6 linked regions of the Homo sapiens genome follow. The protein of the gene in region 3 purifies or fractionates together with the protein of the main gene of each other region. This does not show direct contact. Each region holds a gene or a part of one and is shown on either strand. Other genes may lie near its edges. The genes, in order: TTC1, DNMT1, DNAJB14, GRPEL1, DNAJC7 and UQCRC2.

What was found.
Region 1: the proteins of DNAJB14 (region 3) and TTC1 purify together in Homo sapiens (affinity purification with mass spectrometry, with the first as the bait; one large-scale study listed by BioGRID). This does not show direct contact.
Region 2: the proteins of DNAJB14 (region 3) and DNMT1 purify together in Homo sapiens (affinity purification with mass spectrometry, with the first as the bait; one large-scale study listed by BioGRID). This does not show direct contact.
Region 4: the proteins of DNAJB14 (region 3) and GRPEL1 purify together in Homo sapiens (affinity purification with mass spectrometry, with the first as the bait; one large-scale study listed by BioGRID). This does not show direct contact.
Region 5: the proteins of DNAJB14 (region 3) and DNAJC7 purify together in Homo sapiens (affinity purification with mass spectrometry, with the first as the bait; one large-scale study listed by BioGRID). This does not show direct contact.
Region 6: the proteins of DNAJB14 (region 3) and UQCRC2 purify together in Homo sapiens (affinity purification with mass spectrometry, with the first as the bait; one large-scale study listed by BioGRID). This does not show direct contact.

Annotation. Positions count from the first base shown.
Region 1 is NC_000005.10:160,036,639-160,040,138, reverse strand, and holds part of TTC1 (tetratricopeptide repeat protein 1), read right to left. Parts: intron 3,449-3,500; coding exon 3,336-3,448; intron 1-3,335.
Region 2 is NC_000019.10:10,188,454-10,191,953, reverse strand, and holds part of DNMT1 (DNA (cytosine-5)-methyltransferase 1), read left to right. Parts: intron 1-3,500. UniProt on the Homo sapiens protein: Methylates CpG residues. Preferentially methylates hemimethylated DNA. Associates with DNA replication sites in S phase maintaining the methylation pattern in the newly synthesized strand, that is essential for epigenetic inheritance.
Region 3 is NC_000004.12:99,912,119-99,915,618, forward strand, and holds part of DNAJB14 (dnaJ homolog subfamily B member 14), read right to left. Parts: intron 1-3,500. UniProt on the Homo sapiens protein: Acts as a co-chaperone with HSPA8/Hsc70; required to promote protein folding and trafficking, prevent aggregation of client proteins, and promote unfolded proteins to endoplasmic reticulum-associated degradation (ERAD) pathway.
Region 4 is NC_000004.12:7,058,395-7,061,729, reverse strand, and holds the end of GRPEL1 (grpE protein homolog 1, mitochondrial precursor), read left to right. Parts: intron 1-521; coding exon 522-868; 3' UTR 869-2,835; downstream 2,836-3,335. UniProt on the Homo sapiens protein: Essential component of the PAM complex, a complex required for the translocation of transit peptide-containing proteins from the inner membrane into the mitochondrial matrix in an ATP-dependent manner.
Region 5 is NC_000017.11:41,989,940-41,993,439, forward strand, and holds part of DNAJC7 (dnaJ homolog subfamily C member 7), read right to left. Parts: intron 444-3,500; coding exon 325-443; intron 1-324. UniProt on the Homo sapiens protein: Acts as a co-chaperone regulating the molecular chaperones HSP70 and HSP90 in folding of steroid receptors, such as the glucocorticoid receptor and the progesterone receptor.
Region 6 is NC_000016.10:21,970,361-21,973,860, reverse strand, and holds part of UQCRC2 (cytochrome b-c1 complex subunit 2, mitochondrial precursor), read right to left. Parts: intron 2,337-3,500; coding exon 2,241-2,336; intron 1,939-2,240; coding exon 1,739-1,938; intron 1-1,738. UniProt on the Homo sapiens protein: Component of the ubiquinol-cytochrome c oxidoreductase, a multisubunit transmembrane complex that is part of the mitochondrial electron transport chain which drives oxidative phosphorylation.

The sequences.
Region 1 (3,500 bases), on a different chromosome or scaffold from region 3:
AATTCAGTGCAGAAACATGCTGTACAGGTTTGTAGCCCAGGAGCAATAGGTTATACCATATAGCTTAGGTGTGTAGTAGGCCATACCATCCAGATTTGTGTAAGTATACTCTATGATGTTTGCACAATGATGAAATCACCTAATAACACATTTCTCAGAATGTATACCCGTTGTTAAGTGACTCATGACTGTACTTTAAAATGGCCAACTTTATGTTATCTGTATTTTACCACAATAAACAAAACAAAAAAGGTTTCAGGGTCATCTGGGACCTTTTTTTATTTCTCTTTCAATGTTCAGCATACCAATTCAAATATCAAAAACTCTAAGAAGTCCTGTAAGTAATCTGTATAACTTTATATAAGTCAATATTTTTTCAACTTATCACATTTCTATAAGTCAAAGACACACAATTTCACAGTTTCTGAAATAGAAATAAATCTTTACAATTTATGTGTACAACTGTTGTGATGGTATTCTTTGTGTGCCTAGAAGTGATTATTAAGCTGTAGTGCATCTTATCCACTGTCTCCTCAAATCAAGGAATTATGGAATTTTATTGCAGAAACTTTTGTTTGAGGCTCATAGTCTACTAATACCTCAGAGGACCCAGGTGTTGTCTGCTGCTTACAATGGTAGTCCCCAAAGTGGAGTGTGTGGGAAAAAAAAAAAAATCACAACTTTACCATTCTTTCATAATTTTTATATATAGGTAGCTATCTATCTATATAAAACAGTATACATAATATATAGTGACAAAACAAATGTACACAGCATATAAGGACAAACAAATCTAACTATACATATAAAACAATGTATATAATATATAAGGACAGTAGTTAAAAAAAAAAAAAAAAAGAGAACCTACTCTTTTAGGGCTCTGCTCTTGTATAGCTAGCGAGACCTAGAGCTGAAACTCTGCCCTAGCTCCAGGTTACCTTTTCTCTCTCCAGATATGAAATGTGAAGCGTGGCCAGGGGCACTGAGTCAGGGATGCTGAGCTTGCAAACCTGCCTTTCAGAAATTCTTCATCTTTACCTCTTAAAGCAGTTAAACCATCATTTCCTTGAAAAACTTAGAATATAATATGCTCCTTAAATTGTGTCAGGGTACTAATCCTAGAAGTTATCAAGTCTCTCATTTTAGAGTCTTCATAAAGTATTAAAAATGCAACTTAAGGCCGGGGACGGCGGCTCACGCCTGTAATCCCAGCACTTTGGGAAGCTGAGGTGGGCGGATCACGAGGTCAGGAGTTTGAGACCAGCTTGACCAACATGGTGAAACTCTGTCTCTACTAAAAATACAAAAATTAGCCTGGCGTGGTGGCGCGCACTTGTAATCCCAGCTACTCAGGAGGCTGAGGCAGGAGAATCGCTTGAACACGGGAGGCGGAGGTTGCAGTGAGCCGAGATCACACCACTGCACTCCAGCCTAGGTGACAGAGTGAGACTCCGTCTCAAAAAAAAAAAAAAAAAAAAAGAAACGCAACTTAAAAGAACAGAAAACTTCACCAACAAAACTATTCTTTGAACAGGCAACAATCATAGAGCAACGCTCTTTTGAGTTCTCCTCAGATGTGACAGACAAAATACTAACAAGACCATACATTTTCCTAACTCAAGAACCAGACTATTTATGTGAGCCCAAACCTAGAAATATCAATAACTTGGGCAACTGTAGAAACAAAGAATCCCAAATCCCAGGAGCCAACTGGGTATGGTGCATTTCCTCTGATACTGAAGGCACATCCTTGATCCTATTTCACAATGACAATGTCCAGTCTAAAAATGTGGCAAAAGGGAGAAGCAAATCTAAAAGATCAGAATTTTCCAGGTAAGTGTAAAAACTGTTAGATGTTAATTCTGATTGCTGGTGGGACACATTAATGAATATTGTTTTAAATAAAGTTAAACCAATTGTTTTGTTTTCTCTAATACAAAATGTTGGTTTGTATACTATAAAATTATTTCTTCTCTCATGCCACATGAAATACTCCAAAAATACTCTGCTTTGAAGATTGAATCTTACACAAGTTCTGGTAAAAAAAAAAAACCGTAACCTTTCTGCATGTCCAAGCATTCAAGCACCCACCCCCGCAACCCTGCCCTGGGGCCTTTAAAAAAAACAACAACAACAAAAAAAACCTTGTCACCTAAAGTGACTGTGGTAGAGGCATTTGAGAATTTCAGACAGTATCAAAGAGATATCTGATCTAAACAAACAAATGAAAACACTGCCACTTCCAATCTTGAGCCAGCATCATGGTTGCTTAAAGGTATGTTAAATAACCTATCCTTTGTACTTTGGATGTAAGTAGCCATAGTTTAAAAAGTGGTATGGTTTAAAAAAAAAAAAAACCACTCTCATTTCAATCCAAGGATTATGAAGACTAAATCGGAAAATCAGACAAATCAGAAACAAATCTAACTTTTTTTTTGAGACAGAGTTTTGCTCTTGTCGCCCAGGCCAGAGTGCAGTGCACTGCAACCTCTGCCTCCAGGCTTCAGCGACTCTCCTGCCTCAGCTTCTTGAGTAGATGGGATTACAGGTGCCCACCACCATGCCTGGCTAATTTTTGTATTTTTAGTAGAGATGGGGTTTGACCATGTTGGCCAGGCTGGTCTCGAACTCCTGATCTCAGGTGATGTGCCCGCCTCGGCCACCCATAGTGCTGGGTTTACGGGTGTGAGCCACTGCATCTGGCCCAAATCTAACTTTTAATAAGGTCATGGTATAAAACAAATATATTTGTACTCTCACCTATTCCATACTCACCTTGTTATACTAGGTTCTCAGTCCTTTGGAAATACAAAATGTTTTCAAAGTTCCTTGACACCTATTTTGCATTTAAGGGTACCTTTTATCCCAGCTGTTGGAGATTTCTCCAAGTGTCCATACTTTGAACAGAAAAGTCAGAATCCTGGGAATAACCATCTTTAAAGATGCTTTAAAGCCCAGAGTTTTTACCAGTGTTTCCCTGTGCCTTTGCATGTTTATCTAGAATTCCAGAGGCCTAAAATAAGGATCTAGAGCTATTCTAGGACATGCACTGCTTGGCTCATTGCTTCATTAACCTGACCTAGTTTAGCAAAAAATTTGCCAGCCCTCCTTCCATGAAAGTATTCACTCAGCTACTTTAATGGGGAATGTTAACAGTAATCTGACTCAAGTTTTTCAAAAGATTTTCTATTCTCCCTGTGGCCTTTACATCAGGGAAATATATGGGCAGGAAAAGGGAGGCAGCAACCTCTATGCTAGTTTCTGGAGAGAAACTATGGTATGAAAAGACTGCAAGTCCATGTGCTTTTTAAAAAGAAAAGGTCACAGATACATACCTGTTTCATCCTTGCTGCAGCTCTATTTGAAAATAGAATCGACCTCTCCTTTTGGAAGCAGGATGGGCACATTTCGAGGGCTCGACTATAAGAACTTTCAGCTTCTATATAATCTGAGGATAAGAGAAAGGATGAATGGTCATTTTGATTTTATTCCTGATACTA
Region 2 (3,500 bases), on a different chromosome or scaffold from region 3:
GCTACTCGGGAGGCTGAGGCAGGATAATCGCTTGAACCCAGGAGCCGAGATTGCACCGTTGCACTCCAGCCTGGGCAACAGGAGCGAAACTCTGTCTCAGAAAAAAAAAAAATTTTTTTTTTTAGAGATGAGGGTCTTGCTTTGTTGCCCAGGCTGGTCTTGAACTCCTGGACTGAAGCAATCCTCTGCGTTGGCCTCCCAAAGGGCTGAGATTACAGGCGTGAGCCACAGGGCCCGGCCATTATTCCTCAAGAGTTCTTAAAAGTGGATGCTGCAGGAGTTAACTGCCAGGAAGCAGGAATTCCTGCTAAGGTCTGCTGCTTGCCAAAGCCTTTCCCTTCAACAGGGGTTGCCAGTAGGCCACTGGCTCAGGGGCTCTGTTGGCCCTGTGCAAATATTTTGTTTGGCTGAATTGGAATACCATTAGGTGAGCCTTACAATCCACCACTGACCCTGGGTTCCACATTTCTTTACACTCAGATTGCTTCACTGTAGGCATTGGAGTTTTGGAGGACTGCTTTTGACCATGTGGTAGACATTGAAATTGTAGTTTATATGACTCACTCCACAGACTTTTTTTTTTTTTTTTACATTTTGAAAATATTTCATTAAATGAAAAATAAACATGGTATCCAACAGTACTTGAAACTTAGATTTTTTTTTTTTTTTAATTGAGGCAGGGTCTTGCTCTGTGGCCCAGGCTAGAGTGCAATGGTGTGATCTCAGCTCACTGCAGCCTCCGCTTCCCGGGTTTAAGCAATTCTCCTGTCTCAGCTTCCCAAGTAGCTGGGATTACAGGTGTGCACCACCACGCCCAGCTAATTTTTCTTTTTCCCCCTCGAGGCTGAGCCTTGCTCTGTCGCCCAGGCTGGAGTGCAGTGGCCGTGATCTCGGCTCACTGCAACCTCCACCTCCCGAGTTCAAGCAATTCTCCTACTTCAGTGTCCCAAGTAGCTGGGATTACAGGCGCCCGCCACCAAGCCCAGGTAATTTTTGTATTTTTATTAGAGACTGGGTTTTGCCATGTTGACCAGGCTGGTTTCAAACTCTTGATCTCAAGTGATCCACTTATCTTAGCCTCCCAAAATGCTGGGATTACAGGTATGATGGTGTCCAGCCGGTTCATTGTTTTTATTTTATTTTATTTTATTTTATTTTATTTTATTTTATTTTATTTTATTTTATTTTTGAGACAGAGTCTTGTGCTGTCGCCCAGGCTGGAGTGCAGTGGTGCGAACTTGGCTCACTGCAACCTCCCCCTCCCGGGTTCAAGTGATTCTCCTGCCTTAGCCTCCTGAGTAGCTGGGATTACAGGCATGTGCCACCACGCCCGGCTAACTTTTTCTTATTTTTAGTAGAAACCGGGGTTTACCGTGTTGGCCAGGCTGGTGTTGAACTCCTGGACTCAAGTGATTCGCCTGCCTCAGCCCCGCAAAGTGTTGGGATTACAGGCATGAGCCACCGTGCCTGGCCTTTTAATTCATTCTTAAGCCTGCTCTCAGACAGCTAGGCTTGCTTCTCCACAATAAAGAGTGTTGAATTTTGTCGGTGTATCCCGCATGGTGCCATTATAACACTGAAATTAGTGATTATTTCAGGGTCTGTTACCAGAGCGTGTCTGCCGTATTCACTGTATCTGCAGCTTGGAGCACAGTAGACTCAAATGCTTGCATGCCAGCTCTTCCCCTGTACAGCCTGGATTAACACTGATGCTAGCAGACTCCTTTGCACAACTGATTAGCTTTCGTAACTACCACAGCTTTCTTACTGCTAGTCATTCTGTGATGGGATTAAGCTAGGTCTTGAACTCCTTAACTCCAGTTCCTTGGCTACTACTGAGTACATACTGAATAAGGCAAAATTGACTTACCTCTTTTGTTTTGCTCCCCTGTGGTAGAATTCTAGGGGTACAGACTGCTGGGTTTCAAATGCCGCCCTACTTGCCAGCCGTATGGCTAAGTTATTGAACTTCTTGGTGCCTTGGTGTTTCATCTATAAAAAGGGGGTGGGGCTGCCTGCTCGACAGGGGTGTTAGGAAGACTGAGCTTATCAGTACAGATATGTTGAGAGCAGCACCTGTCCAAAGCCCTTCATCACTGGTTATTACGTGGTACTGTGTGTACAGTGGGGATGCTGTGGGTTTGGTTCCAGACCACTGCAGTAAAGTGAATCTAGCAAGAAAGTGAGTCACACACACATTTTGGTTTCCTAGTATGTGTAAAAGTTATTAGACTAGGCCGTGTGCAGTGGCTCATGCCTGTAATCCCAGCAGTTTGGGAGGCCAAGGCAGGAGGATCGCTTGAGCCAAGGAGTTCAAGACTAGTCTGGGCAACATAGGAAGACCCCCCCCATCTCAAAAAAAAAAATAAAGCCAAAAGTGGTGGCATGCACCTGGGGTCCCAGCTACTCGGGAGGCAGAGGTGGGAGGATCACTTGAACCCATGAGGTCGAGGCTGCAGTTTGCCATGATTGTGCCACTGCACTCCAGCCTGGGTGAAGGAGTGAGACTCTGTCTCAAAAAAAAAAAAAAATCAGCTGGGCGTGGTGGCTCACGCCTGTAATCCCAGCACTTTGGGAGGCCAAGGTGGGCAGATCACGAGGTCAGGAGATCGAGACCATCCTGGCTAACACGGTGAAACCCCGTCTCTACTAAAAATACAAAAAAAATTAGCCAGGCATGGTGGCACACGCCTATAGTCCCAGCTCCATGGGAGGCTGAGGCAGGAAAATTGCTTGAACTTGGGAGGCGGAGGTTGCAGTGAGCCGAGATCATGCCACTGAACTCCAGCCTGGGCAACAGAGCGAGACTCCGTCTCAAAAAAAAAAAAAAAATCATCTGAGTCTTCAGCGATTCATAATCTTTTTGCAGGTGGAGGGTCTTGCCTCAAACTTGCCGGCTTAAAGGACATACATTTATTACCTTATGCAGGTCAGAAATCTGATGTGGGTTTCACCGGATGAAAATCAAGGTGTAAGCAGGCTGCATTCCTTTCTGGGGGCTCCAGGGGAGAATCTGTTTCCTATTTTGGGGTGTTGGCAGAAGGTGGTAGTTGTAAGACTCAGGTCCCATTTTCTTCACTGGTTCTAAACTGAGGGTCGTTGCCCGCTTCTGGAGGCGGTCTCATCCCTCGGCTCATGCCCCCTTCCTCTACCTTTAAAGTCAGCATTTGCGGGTTGCATCTCTCTCTGACCCGTCCTCCAACGTTGCCCGCTCTCTGCAGCTAGAAAGGTTCTGTGTTCTTAAGGGCTGAAGTGATTAGATTGGGCCCACCCCAGATAATCCAGGATAATCTCCCCATCTCAAGGTCTGTATTCTTAGTTACATCTGCAAAATCGCTTTGGCCACGTAAAGTAATATATTCACAGGTTCCAGGGATTAGGGCATGAACATTTTTCGGTGGGTCCACTCTTTTTGAGATGGAGTCTCGCTCTGTCACCCAGGCTGGAGTGCAGTGGCATGATCTCGGCTCACTGCAACTTCTGCTTCCTGGGTTCAAATG
Region 3 (3,500 bases):
TGTTGAAAAGGCTATCTTTCCTCCATCGAACTGCTTTTGCATCTTTGTCAAAAAACAGTTGGCTATATTGGTATCAGTCTATTTCTGGGTTTCCTATCTCGTTCTATTGATCTATGTGTGTATCTCTCTGCCATTACCACGCAGTTTTGTTTACTGTTTATCTATACAGTAAATCCTGAAATCAGGAACACTGATTACTCCAACTACATTCTTTTAACAGAAATAAATGTTTTTAAATATTCAGGTTCTTTCTTCCCCTCATATGAATTTTAGAATAAAACTTGTTTCTATCTACAAAACAAATCCTGCTAGGATTTTGACAGGAATTGTGTTAAATCTGTATATCAATCTGTGATGACTTGACTTTTTTTTTTTTTTAAGACAGAGTTTTGCTCTTGTTGTCCTGGCTGGAGCGCAACGGCGCGATCTCGGCTCATTGCAACCTCCACCTCCCAGGTTCAAGTGATTCTCCTACCTCAGCCTCCTGAGTAGCTGGGATTACAGGCATGCGCCACCACGCCTCGCTAATGTTGTACTTTTAGTAGAGATGGGGTTTCTCCATGTTGGTCAGGCTGGTCTAAAGCTCCCGATCTCAGGTGATCTGCCCACCTCGGCCTCCCAAAGTGCTGGGATTACAGGTGTGAGTCACCGTGCCCAGCCGACTTGACATCTTTACTATGTTGAATCTTCCCATCCATGAACATGATATTTCAGTCCATTTATTTAGCTATTTTCTGATTTCTTTAATCAATATTGTATAGCTTTCAGTATATAAATGTGATAAAAGTTTTATTAAACTTACACCTAAGTATTTTTTTGTATGTATGATTGTAAATGCTAATGTATTATTAATTTTAGTGTCTAAATATTCATTGCTAGTAAATAGAAATGCAATTAATTTTTTGTAGATTTATATTGTGTCCTGCAATCTTACGGGATTTGCTTTGTAGTCACAGTTTTTTCTGTAGATTCCTTGGATTTCTACATAGATAATCATGTCATTTGCACATAACAACAGTTTTAGCTCTTCTTTTCCAGTCTGTATGCCTTTTATTTCCTTTTTCTCTCTTTAACGCAGTGATTACTACTTCCTGCACTTTGTTGAATATGAGTGGTAAAGAGATATTCTTGCTTTATTCTTGATCATAGGGGAAAAGCATTCAGTCTTTCACCATTTAATGTTAGCTTACAGGAGTTCTGTAGTTGCTCTTTATCAAGTTGAGGCAGGTCCCTTCTATTGCTATTTTTCTGACAGTTTTTATCATGAATGGGTGGTGAAATGTATCAAATGCTTTTATTCCACTGATTAATATAATCGTGGGATTTTTTTTCTTTAATTAATGTGGTGGATTACACTTATTGATCTTCAAATAGTGAATTGACTTTGCTACCTTGAAATAAACTTCTATTGTTTGGGGTATATAATTCTTTTTATATACTGCAAAATTCTGATATTTTGTTAAGGACATTTGGGTTTATCCCACAAAGTATACTGGTCTGTAGTTTTTTTTTTTTTTTTTTTCTGTAATGTCTTTGGTTTTGATATAAGCAAGGTAAAACATTTCTTAACATTAACTGGAAAATGTCTCTTCCTCTTCTATTTTCTGGAAGAGATTATGTAGAATTAGTTTTAATTCTTCCTTAAAAAGTTTGGTAGACTTCTTCAATAAGAGCATCTGAGCCTGGATATTTCTTTTTTGGGAATTTCATAATTACAACTTTAATTCACTGAACAGTTCTGTCTTAGTCCATTTTGTGTTGCTATAGAAAAATACCTGAGACTAGCTTATGGTTCTATAGGCTGAAAAGTTTGTGGGCATAGCCTTGGCTTCTGGTGAGGGCTTTTGTGCTGCATAACATGGTGGAGAAAATCAAAGGGGAAGCAGACAGGTGCAAAGAGGGGAAAACCTGAGGGGTGTCCTGGCTTTATAACAACCCACTCATTCGGGAAATAATCAATTCCTTCAAGAACTAATCTAGCCTCAAGAGAGCAAGAACTTACTACTGTGAGAACAGCAGCAAGACATTCATGAGGGATCTGCCCCCATAACACAAACACTTCCCACTAGGCTACACCTCCCAACACTGCCACATTGAGGATCAAATTTCAATATACTGAACCAACCCAAATGTCCAACAATGATAGACTGCATTAAGAAAATGTGGCACATATACACCATGGAATACTATGCAGCCATAAAAATGATGAGTTCATGTCCTTTCTAGGGACATGGATGAGGCTGGAAACCATCATTCTCAGCAAACTATCGCAAGGACAAAAAACCAAACACCGCATGTTCTTACTCATAGGTGGGAATTGAACAATGAGAACCCTTGGACGCAGGAAGGGGAACATCACACACTGGGGCCTGTTGTGGGGTGGGGGGAGTGGCGAGGGATAGCATTAGGAGAAATACCTTATGTAAATGACGAGTTAACGGATGCAGCACACCAACATGGCACATGTATACATATGTAACAAACCTGCACGTTGTGCACATGTACCCTAGAACTTAAAGGATAATAAAAATATATATATAAAATAAAAAATAAAAATAAAAATTAAAAAATTTCAATATACCCAAACCACAGCAATTTCTACAGGGCTATTCACGTTATCTATGTCAGACTGAGTTGTGATGATTTGTATTTTTCAACTAACTGGCCCATCTCATCTAACTTGTAAACTTATGTATATGGAATTGTTCATAGTATTCTCTTATTATCCGTTTGATGTCTGCAGTGATATCCTTGTCTCTGACACCATTTCTGACAATGGTCATTTCTGTCTTCTTTTTTTGGTCAGTCTTTCAATTTTATTGATTTTTTTCAGAGAACCAGCTCTGTTTCATTGATATTCACTATTGTTACTCTTTTCAATTGTACTGATTTCTACTCTTATAATTTCTTTTGCTTGCTTTGAGTTTATTTTGCTATTCTTTTTCTAGATTTGTAAGGTAGAAGCATAGATAACTGATTTGAGGCTGTTCTTCTTTTCTAACATATGCATTTCATGTTACAAGTTTCCTCTCAGCATTCCTTTAGCTGGTCTTCTCAAATTTTAATTGTTGTATTTTCATTTTTAGTTAGTTCACTGCGAGCTCCGCCTCCCAGGTTCATGCCATTCTCCTGCCTCAGCCTCCCGAGTAGCTGGGACCACAGGCGCCCGCCACCACGCCCGGCTACTTTTTTGTATTTTTAGTAGAGATGGGGTTTCATCGTGTTAGCCAAGATGGTCTCAAATTCCTGACCTTGCGATCCACCCACCTCGGCCTCCCAAAGTGCTGGGATCACAGGCGTGAGCCACTGTGCCTGGCCAAGTTAGATCAATATGTTTTTTCAAATTTGTTTTGATATTTCCTGTTTGACCCATGGATACTTAGAAATTTGTTGTTCAGTTTCCAAGGACTGGACGTTTTCCTATTACCTTTGTGTAACTGATTTCCACTTTGATTCCACTGTGGTTAGTGAACATACTTGTATGATTTCAATATTTTAAA
Region 4 (3,335 bases), about 93 Mb from region 3:
ATACTGTGGCCTGTTTCTTGGTATTCCGCCTCTCTTTGTGGTAATGTGCTTTGTTGGTTCTTACCCTTTCCGACCTGTAAATGCCTGGGCTCTTGGGACTCAGTACCAGACCTCTTCTCTCCCCTTGCTGTGCTCCCTGGGTGACTTACATACTCTTACGGGCTTAGTGGCATCCACACACAAGTCTCAGCTTCAAACTCGGATCTTCCGAGTTCCAGTCCCCTAAATCTTACTGCTTGCTTGACATCTGGGCTTGGATGTCTCAAGGGTATTTTCCCCTCTACTGCACTCCTTTCTTCACATTTTAGTGAATTCTAAATTTAGTAAATTCTGGGTCTCATCCCACAAGTAGCTTTTGAGAGTTTTGTGTTGTTTTTTAAAGTTATTGAGCCATTGGAATTCTGAGGCGATTGATTTGACAAGTTACTAAATAGCCTCCACATCAGGTCAGCAGTGCTCAGTTTGGAATTGCCCTGTGCGGTTGGTATGGAGTGCAAATGATCTTCTTTAACTTCATCCAGGCATTCAAGCCTTCTGCAAGGACTTGTTGGAGGTGGCAGACGTTCTGGAGAAGGCAACACAGTGTGTTCCAAAAGAAGAAATTAAAGACGATAACCCTCACCTGAAGAACCTCTATGAGGGGCTGGTCATGACTGAAGTCCAGATCCAGAAGGTGTTCACAAAGCATGGCTTGCTCAAGTTGAACCCTGTCGGAGCCAAGTTCGACCCTTATGAACATGAGGCCTTGTTCCACACACCGGTTGAGGGGAAGGAGCCAGGCACAGTGGCCCTAGTTAGCAAAGTGGGGTACAAGCTGCATGGGCGCACTCTGAGACCCGCCCTGGTGGGGGTGGTGAAGGAAGCTTAGCTGCTGTTGATGGGGTGGGTGTTTTTAAACTCACTTGATGTAACTCTCAAGGCTGGTTCATTGTTTCTCATCTATGAGTACGTGTGACCTTTTCCCAAACCTTATTGGAAACCTTAAGTAACCAGTGGCTAAACAGAAAAGCCGGTTGCCCAACTGCATTAATGAACTCTAATTCGGGAGTCTGTTCCCTTTTAGTGCCACGCGTTGAATAGTTCCACATACTTTCAGAAGAGCTCAGCAGGGCCCTGCCTGGTCTCCCGAGCATCATGAGTAACGTGTCTGCTCAGACTCTGCTGACACCAAAGTATTTTAAACAAATAAAAGGTCTTGGGGAATTCTGTTTGGCTACCTGGGCACGCCAGTCTGCACCATGTGTCCCTGCGGCGCATGAGTGACTGGCGTATTTAGCCCGTCACATTTCATTCGCTGAAGGAAAGGCAAGAGAGTTGAAACATTTTTCTTACTTAAAAAAAATGATCTTTGTGAAGAACATAGTGAGTTCGTTTGTCTTCAGTCAACAGCGGCTGAAACTGACCACTGAGAAATGGGTGTGGGCACTGACAGTTCTCCCCCATTATTTGGCCAGGAATTGAGCTTGGCTTGGCAAAGTTCCTTTTACCCTGTTCTGTTCATCTAAATGCAGACATATTTAAATCATATTCAACTAGTTACTAATGACCTCAAGTTGTATTCCCTGGCAAAATGGACTTTCTCAAAATAGGACTGCACGCTTGGTGTACTTTAAATGTTAATGTTTAATTTAAAATTTTTATTTAAGAGGATTAAAGCCCTAATGTTTATTTTCCTACTTTCTGAAAACAATTTTGTGTCCTCTCATGGAGATCCTTGCCGCTGAGGCAAGCATGGCTTAGCCTTCCCATTCTCTACTCCAGCCCAGAAGCTGTCAGCTTGACACGTGCGTGCGTGCACATTCACGTACACACATATACAGGCTTCTACACAGAAAGGGAGAGCCACACTCCCCCAGTGCAGCTGCAGCCCGTCCGGTAAGAATACGAAACACCCAGGAGCCACAGCAAGGGCACAGGATTTGCAAAATCATCTTGCCAAAGGGCTGTTCCTCATTTACACGGTCATCCAGGGCTTAGAAAAAGGCTGAATGATTGGCGTCTGTTACAAAAAAGAGAAAAGAACCTTTCGCTGCCTTTGCTTCTAGAATGGAAGATACTTGTGAAAGCCATTTGCTGCACAGGAAAGATGGGGCAGTTTATTTCACTTCTAATTTTAAAAGACGCAAGTAATGGTCCCATAATACTTCATCTTGGGATACCATTCCCAAACATGTTCCACCTTTAAGATGCCTTAAGTTAATTTGGTCAGAAACAACTAAAGGCAGCATCGTGTATTGAAGAAAACATGACTGGGAGCTCCAGCGCTGCCTGTTTTCACGCTGTGGGGTTGTGAGTGCATCATCACCCCTGGAGCTCCCGAGTTAAATGGAGGCTAAGAAAAGTAATTTATCAACTCATTTCTGTGAATGTTTGCAGTCTCCTACCGTCTCAACTACAGCTGCAGTTGCTAAAAAGCACTTAACTCGTAACCTAGAGGCAATATAGCTTAAGTAGCAAAATATTTTTTTACAGTAAGCTTCAGTCATCCATAGTCACTATAAGTTGGTTATCATCTGAAATGCTTAGAACCAGAATTGTTTCAAACTTGGGGGGTTTTCGGATTTTGGAATATAGTCAAGCATGGCTTAACCACAGGGATGTGTTCTGAGAAATGCGCTGTCAGGCAGTTTTTCCTGTGAACACCATGTGTACCTACATGGACCTAAAAAACAGGTGGTGGAGCCTCCTCCACACCTAGGCTATATGGTGTATGTAGCCTGTTGCTCTAGACTGGAGGGCACGTTACTGTACTGATACTGTAGGCAACTGTTAACACAATGGTATCTGTGTATCTGAACATAACATAGTAAAGGTACAGTGCAAACTGTGTTCTAATATGTGGCCCCTCATTGACTGAAAAGAGATTCTCTGCTTGACTATTTGCATTGTATTTGCTGGTTAAGTATCCCCAATCCCAAAATCCAAAATGCTCTAAATGAGCATCTCCTTTGAGCACCATGTAGGCACTCAGAAAGTTTCAGATTTTGCAGCCTTTCAGATTTGGGGATACTCAACCTGTAATAGGAAAATGTCTTTTAATTATGTGCATATTTACAGTAGGAATTAAAGATTTGTTTAGCTACCTTCTAGTAGTTACTGGATTTAGCATAACTGCAGCATGAGTGAAGTGTCACGTGTGAACAGTGAAAACCAGAACTGGAAGTCTCAGAGGCATCTGAAAAGTCGGCCTGGCTTCCTGAAAGACTCAGACCCATTTGGCTTTCTCTGGCTGTACTGCTGCTTTGAGGGAGGAGAGCACCTGGCACGAAAGGGTCTCTGCTTAAGAGAAAGCAACTTTAGGTCGGGTGCAGTGGCTCACGCCTGTAATCCCAGCA
Region 5 (3,500 bases), on a different chromosome or scaffold from region 3:
GCCTGCAAAGGCTAAAATCTGGCCCTTTGCAGAAAGTGTGCCAACCAGTGGAGTAGAAGGAAAAGGACTACCTTAAACAAACAAACAAAACCACAAAAACACAATCTGTTCTTTCATATATAGCTCAAGTACCTGCTATACTACTATACTCCTGTATACCCTACGGGTTTTCAAAGCTGGTCTAATCTTTGACTTTAAGTCCCAAGAGGGTCTGATCAGCCCTAGCTGGCCTACTCTGGGGACCATATCCTGTGGTGAAGCTGCCGGACACCATCAGTCCAATGGTATCTGGCATTTTAATGTCCAGCTAGCCTGACTGCATACCTAGCCACAGACTGTGCTTCTGGATAACGACCCAGCATTGCTAAACATTCTGCCTTGAGGATTTTGAAGCGATGGCAGGCAGGGGCAAATTCTAGGGCACGGTCCATGCAGAAAACAACCTGTAGGGAAGAAGAAAACAAATAAGGCTCTTCATCAGGGACTCCAGAAACATCTTCACTTTAGTTTAGTCACAGGTAACAGACTCAAAACTCAATGAGGTCTTTGGGTCCACTTCTAAGTAATATCAAAGTTTAAAAACATACCTAATTCATTAAATAAAAGCACTGAAATGAGGACAGCAAAGGCTCCAGATGATAATGAGGACAGTAAACATTTACTGGGTACTTTCATATATGAACCCATTTAATCCTCACAAGAATTTTATGAAATAGGCAATATTATCACTTTTTTTTTTTTTTTTGAGATGGAGTCTCACTCTGTCACCCAGGCTGGAGTGCAGTGGCAGGATCTTGGCTCACTGCCACCTCTGCCTCCTGGGTTCACGCCATTCTCCTGCCTCAGCCTCCCGAGTAGCTGGGACTACAGGCGCCCGCCACCACGCCCAAGCTAATTTTTTTTTGTATTTTTAGTAAACACAGGGTTTCACCATGTTAGCCATGATGGTCTTGATCCTCGTGATCCGTCCTCCTCAGCCTCCCGAAGTGCTAGGATTACAGGCGTGAGCCACCACACCCAGCCTTAAAATAGTTATTTTAAATGGCTCTAAATAGGCTACATCAGATTACTATTCCCAACATGCCACTATACAAACCACAAGCCAAGGAGCAATCACACACACAAAAAGGTGGGGATTAATTTACTCTTTCAGCCTCATAAAGCATCTCCATATATTCTGTTTTTCTCTTTTTACTAGTTTGTCCTCTGAGCTTTCAGTTTTGGTTTAGCTGCTATTTATTCCTGGGAGAGCCTTGCTGAATCACATTCACGCCGAGAATAAATGAACCGAAGGACAAATCTGGAGTTAAGGGACACCTATTCCCTCTAAGAATTTGGCCATGGGGGTCAGGAAGAGATAAACTCTGAAAACTTACAAGCAGAAAAATTCAAATTCCATCCACAGGAGACTGGTTAGTTAACATGGACATTCATATAATGGAATACTATATAGTTCTAAAATAGAATGAAGAAGCTCTTCATGTACTAATATGGAAAGACTTCCAAGAGCTACTCAGTGATTTTTTTTTAAAGGTGCAGACCTGCCATAAAGCATACTACCTTTCACGCTAAATAAAGGGAGAAAATCAAGGATCTTTATTTTATATAAGTACAACAAAACTAAGGAAGAAAATAGAAGACATAAGAACAGTGGTTAGCTTAGGGGAGTGAGAACTGGGCGGAGAGAGGACAAGTTTGAGGGGACACTCATCACTGAATATTTTTCATACTTTCTAACTTTTGTTTGTTTTGTTTTTGAGATGGGGTCTTGCTCTGCTGTTCAGGCTGGAGTATCAGTGGCACAATCATGGCTCACTGCAGCCTCGACTTCCCAGACTCCAGTGATTCTCCTGCCTCAGCCTCATGAGTAGTTGGGACTGCAGGCACACGTCACCACACTCAGCTAAAATTTTAAATTATCTGTAGAGACAGGGTCTCAATAAGTTGCCCAGGTTGGTCTCGAACTCCTCGCCTCAAGTGATCCTCCTGCCTTGGCCTCCCAAAGTGCTGGGATTACAAGCATAAGCCACTGCATCTGGCAACACTTTCTAGTTTTTGAACCATGAATAGCACCTATTCCAAAACTGAAATTTAAAATATGAGCAAGTCAGTAAACACTACCACATTACCAGCTGTTTCACTGAGAAGACTTTCTGCAGTGTCACACAGCAGTGACAGGAATGCCTCTCCTTCAGTGGCACAGGTTTACTGTCCTGAAAGTTTTCTGTTTTTTTGTTTTTTGTTTTTTTTGAGATGGAGTTTCGTTCTTGTTGCCCAGGCTGCAGTGCAATGGCATGATCTTGGCTCACTGCAACCTCTGCCTCCCGGGTTCAAGCAATTCTCCTGCCTTTGCCCTCTGAGTAGCTGGGATTACAGACATGCGCCACCAGGCCTGGCTAATTTTTTGTATTTTTAGTAAAGACAGGGTTTCTCCATGTTGGTCAGGCTGGTCTCTAACTCCCGACCTCAGGTGATCCGCCCACCTCGGCCTCCCAAAGTGCTGGGATTACAGCCATGAGCCACCGCACTCGGCATGTCCTGAAAGTTCTAAGGACAATATGAAAACTTAAGCATTATGTAGGTAGAGTTGTGCTAACTGTCCTGCCCCCCCAGATGGAAAAGGAATGAGGGGGCAGGAAAAAGTCAGTCAAAATGTCAGCAGCCACACCCTGTTGCCTTCACAAGGACCCCGTTTTATGCAGAGCTGGTTCTGCTAATCATGGGGATCGTCAGTGCTTCACTTCCCACCCCCCAACCTCCCCATGACTAGGGACAGCTGCAGGCAAAGAAGATCTTTTGTTTCTTCCAAGTTCATCTGTTTCCCCTGCCAGGATCATAATTCTTCATTTGTGACATCACCGTGAGCTACAGTGGGGGGGCTGGGATGTCACAAACAGAGGATTCTGTCACAAACTCAGGATTCTGGCTCTGGAGTAGGCAAGAGAGAAAAGAAACCCAAAAGACCACCTCTCAAGACAAAGCTTTTGCCTATGTAAACCTCAGAAAACTGACAGTAGGCAGAATTGCTTTCCAAACACACACATGCCAAACAAAACAAACTTATGAATTACATTACAAAGACAACTGTGGTTATTAAAACCAATGGACAGAAGAGGGATGCTAATAAGTTACTGCCGGGACTCTGCATAAGCTAATCAGATATATACATTACCAAATAAAAGACCATCAGTCAATGTGAATGATTCTTAATGTATCCTCTTATCAAAACATTTACTGAGGCCAGGCGTGGTGGCTCACGCCTGTAATCCCAGCACTTTGGGAGGCCAAGGCGGGAGGATCACAAGGTCAGGAGATCAAGACCATCCTGGCTAACACGGTGAAACCCTGTCTCTACTAAAAACACAAAAAATTAGCTGGGCGTGGTGGTGGCCGCCTGTAGTCCCAGCTACTCAGGAGGCTGAGGCAGGAGAATGGCATGAACCCAGGAGGCGGAGCTTGCAGTGAGCCGAGATCCCGCCACTGCACTCCAGCCTGGGCAA
Region 6 (3,500 bases), on a different chromosome or scaffold from region 3:
ACCAAGTAAAACAGGGCACGATTTCTTTAAGTTTGCCTAGAAAAAACTTGGACCTTCACGGTATAAACAAAATAGATTAATATTTTACTTAGCCAGTTCTGTCACGAACTGAAGTATTCTGTAAATAGGTTACCTCTTTCAGAACTATCACGGCTTTGTTTTTTCATTTAAATATTTCTAAAATGACTGCTCCCTTTCCTTTATGCTGGGTATTTTCTAACCTGCTTTAGATGATTAAAGGTTTATGCAAACACTAATCTGCAAACATTATTATTATAATATAGATAGGCTTTGGCATTAGGCAGACCAGGTTTCTTCTCTCTGCTGTTGGTAGGGACTTTTTCACCAATTTACTTTCATTTCTCTTATACACTCATGTCAGAAAGTTAGAGAAAAATTTCTGCTTAGTGGTCATTATCCAGATGTCCAAGCTATCAAGAGTTTAACCTCTGAATAACAGGGATATTGTTATCTAGTTTGAGCAGAGCTTTTAGCTCTCTAGGGTGAACCCGATTTGCAGTGTTTATGTGGACCATTTACATAAAAATTATCTAAGTTCTTATTAAAAATACAAACTTTCAGATTCCCAAAATGGACCTACTGACTCAGGTCCCTGTGGATGCAGCCTGGAAGCCCAGATTTTTAACAAGTGTTCCAGGTAATTCTTATGTACAATAAACTTGGAGAACCATTGGCTCAGTCCACGTAAAGCATAAGAAGGCACTTCAATTTCTTTTATTTATTTATTTATATATATTTTTGAGACAGAGTCTTGCTCTGTCACCCAGGCTGGAGTGCAGTGGCACGATCTCAGCTTACTGAATCCTCCGCCTCCTGGGTTCAAGTGATTCTTCTGCCTCAGCCTCCCAAGTAGCTGGGACTACAGGCGTGCGCCACCACGCCCAGACAATTTTTGTATTTTTAGTAGAGACAGGGTTTCACTGTGTTAGCCAGGATGGTCTTGATCTCCTGACCTTGTGATCCGCCCAACTTGGCCTCCCAAAGTGCTGGGATTACAGGCGTGAGCCACTGTGCCTGGCCTGGACTTCAATTTCTTTAATTATAATTCTGAGGCCATCCTATTTATACTCTAAATTTCTGGCTGAGTTCTGAACTAGGAATTTCTATTAAATTACTTCATTGGATTAGGAGAGATGGGGGTTTCACCACGTTGGCCAGGCTGGTCTCGAACTCCTGACCTCCAGTGATCCGCCCACCTCGGCCTCTCAGAGTGCTGGGATTTTAGTTGTGAGCCACTGTGCCCAGCCTCTCATTTTTCTTTTCAAATTTAATCTCAAGCTGAATGAGTGAGTCTGTAAACAATTTCTTGGTGTTCATCTTGTCCACTTGGTTGGAAAACAAATAGTGAGATTCAGGAAGTAACCAAAAGAACAGAAGCGGACAGAAGAAAATCTAGAAAAAAAGACTAGTTAGAATCTAGGGGAAAGTTTAATATCTACAACTTTATTCTAAAGGGAACGGATGTGTGGATTCCCTTTATTTCTAAGCATTCAATTCCTCTTTTTATATTACTAATGACAAGTAATAGACAAAGTGGAAAAGCCAGTGAGTTTTTGATAGGCCTTCAAAGATACTAAAATCAAGCCTGGCTATCTCTTCAATTGTACAAAGATTTTCTGTGTGTTTGTCTTACATTTTAAGAGTAGATTATCAGAATTATATCTTAAATACTGAGCCTTTGAAAGCAAAAAGAGAGATACCAACTGTTCAGACTCACATCAAATGGCTGCTGAGTTGCCTTGGCAACAGCCTGGTGCAGATGGCTGGTGGTGTTGCTGCCCCTCTTGACATGTGGCCCAGCACCGAGGACATGCTGAAGAACACTAAATGCATTTGCCTCTGCACTTCCCGCGACAGCACTTTCTGCTACAAAAGCAGCATGGACAAGACTGTCTCCATTCTGTTCTCGGATTTCACCTGGGGCCAGATTAAGGATAGAGGGAAGAAGAAAATGGCTTGTTCACCATTGGTTTCATTCTCCAGTATTTCCTACAACACAGTATTAACCCACGAGTCTTTTCTGCAGCTCGGTGCTTTCCCCATGCCATCCTGTCCCCAAACACACACAAAACATATGCTCAAAATACAACACCCAAGCCATCCAATTCTATGCCGAGACTGTTCAGTAGTAAATATTCAGGCCTATTCCACCTCAATATGCTATTCTAGTGGGGAAACGCCCTTCTGATAAATTAACCCTAATAGAATGAAATGCTTACCTCCACGGTAGTTGGCCTTTGCACCAGATAAACCAAGCCCACCCCTCATGTTGAGAAACTGTTCAGCAACTTGCTTTAGAACAGGATGACTCACACCTGTTTCAACAGAAGCAAAAACAAAGCTAGAACCACAATTACTAAAACACAATCGTAAAATATTTTTTCCTTGTTTTAAAAATACGATTGTAAAATCCTAACACTACAAAATAAATAAGAGTCTTCCTGCCATAATGCCACTCTCCCAGAGATACCCAATTACAGTTTACTATTACTAAACTATTTACTATATACTTAGTATTACTATTCATCTAGAATTTTCTGTGTAGTTAATATTATCTTCAATTTATTTCTAAAATGGTATCATTCTATTGATATTGTTTCTAACTTATCTTTCATAATTTACAAATTTCTAAGTGAGTAGTCTACATCAAATATTTAATGGTTATAAAGAATCCCTTTCTATGGCTCTACCACCATTTATTTGATCAATCCCCTCCTAATGGACGCTAGCATGTTTCTAATAGTTAGCTCTTAAAACAACATTGCATTGTCCATCAAAGAACACTGTATCAAGAAAGTAAAAAGAGGACCCATGAAATGCAGGAAAATATTTGCAGATAATATATCTGCTAACAGCTTGAGTAACCAAAATATATAAAGAACCTTTACAACTCAACAATTAAAAAAAAAAACTTAAAAATGGGCAAAGACTTGAATAGACATTTCTCCAAAGTTGACTGGGCACGGTGGCTCACATCTGTAATCCCAACAGTTTGGGAGGCCGAGGCAAGTGGATCACCTGAGCTCAGGAGTTCGAGACCAGTCCAGCCAACATGGTGAAACCCCATCTCTATTAAAATTACAAAAATTAGCCAGGAATGGTGGCATGCACCTGTAATCCCAGCTACTCGGGAGGCTGAGGCCGGAGAATTGCTTGAACCTGGGAAGTGGAGGTTGCAGTGAGCTGAGATTGCGCCACTGCACTCCAGCCTGGGCAACAGAGCAAGCCTCTGTCTCAAAAAAACAAACAAACAAAAAAAGTTATACAAATGGACAAAAAGCACATGAAAATATGTTCAATGTCATTTGTCATTAGGGAAATACAAATCAAAACTACAATGACCACTTCCCACCCAGTAGGTTGTTCATAATCAGAAAGACAGACGATAAGTGTTGGTGAGGATGTGGAGAAATCAAAACCTTTGTGCATTGCTGGTGGGAATGTAAAATGGTGCAGCTACTTTGGAAAACAGTCTGGCA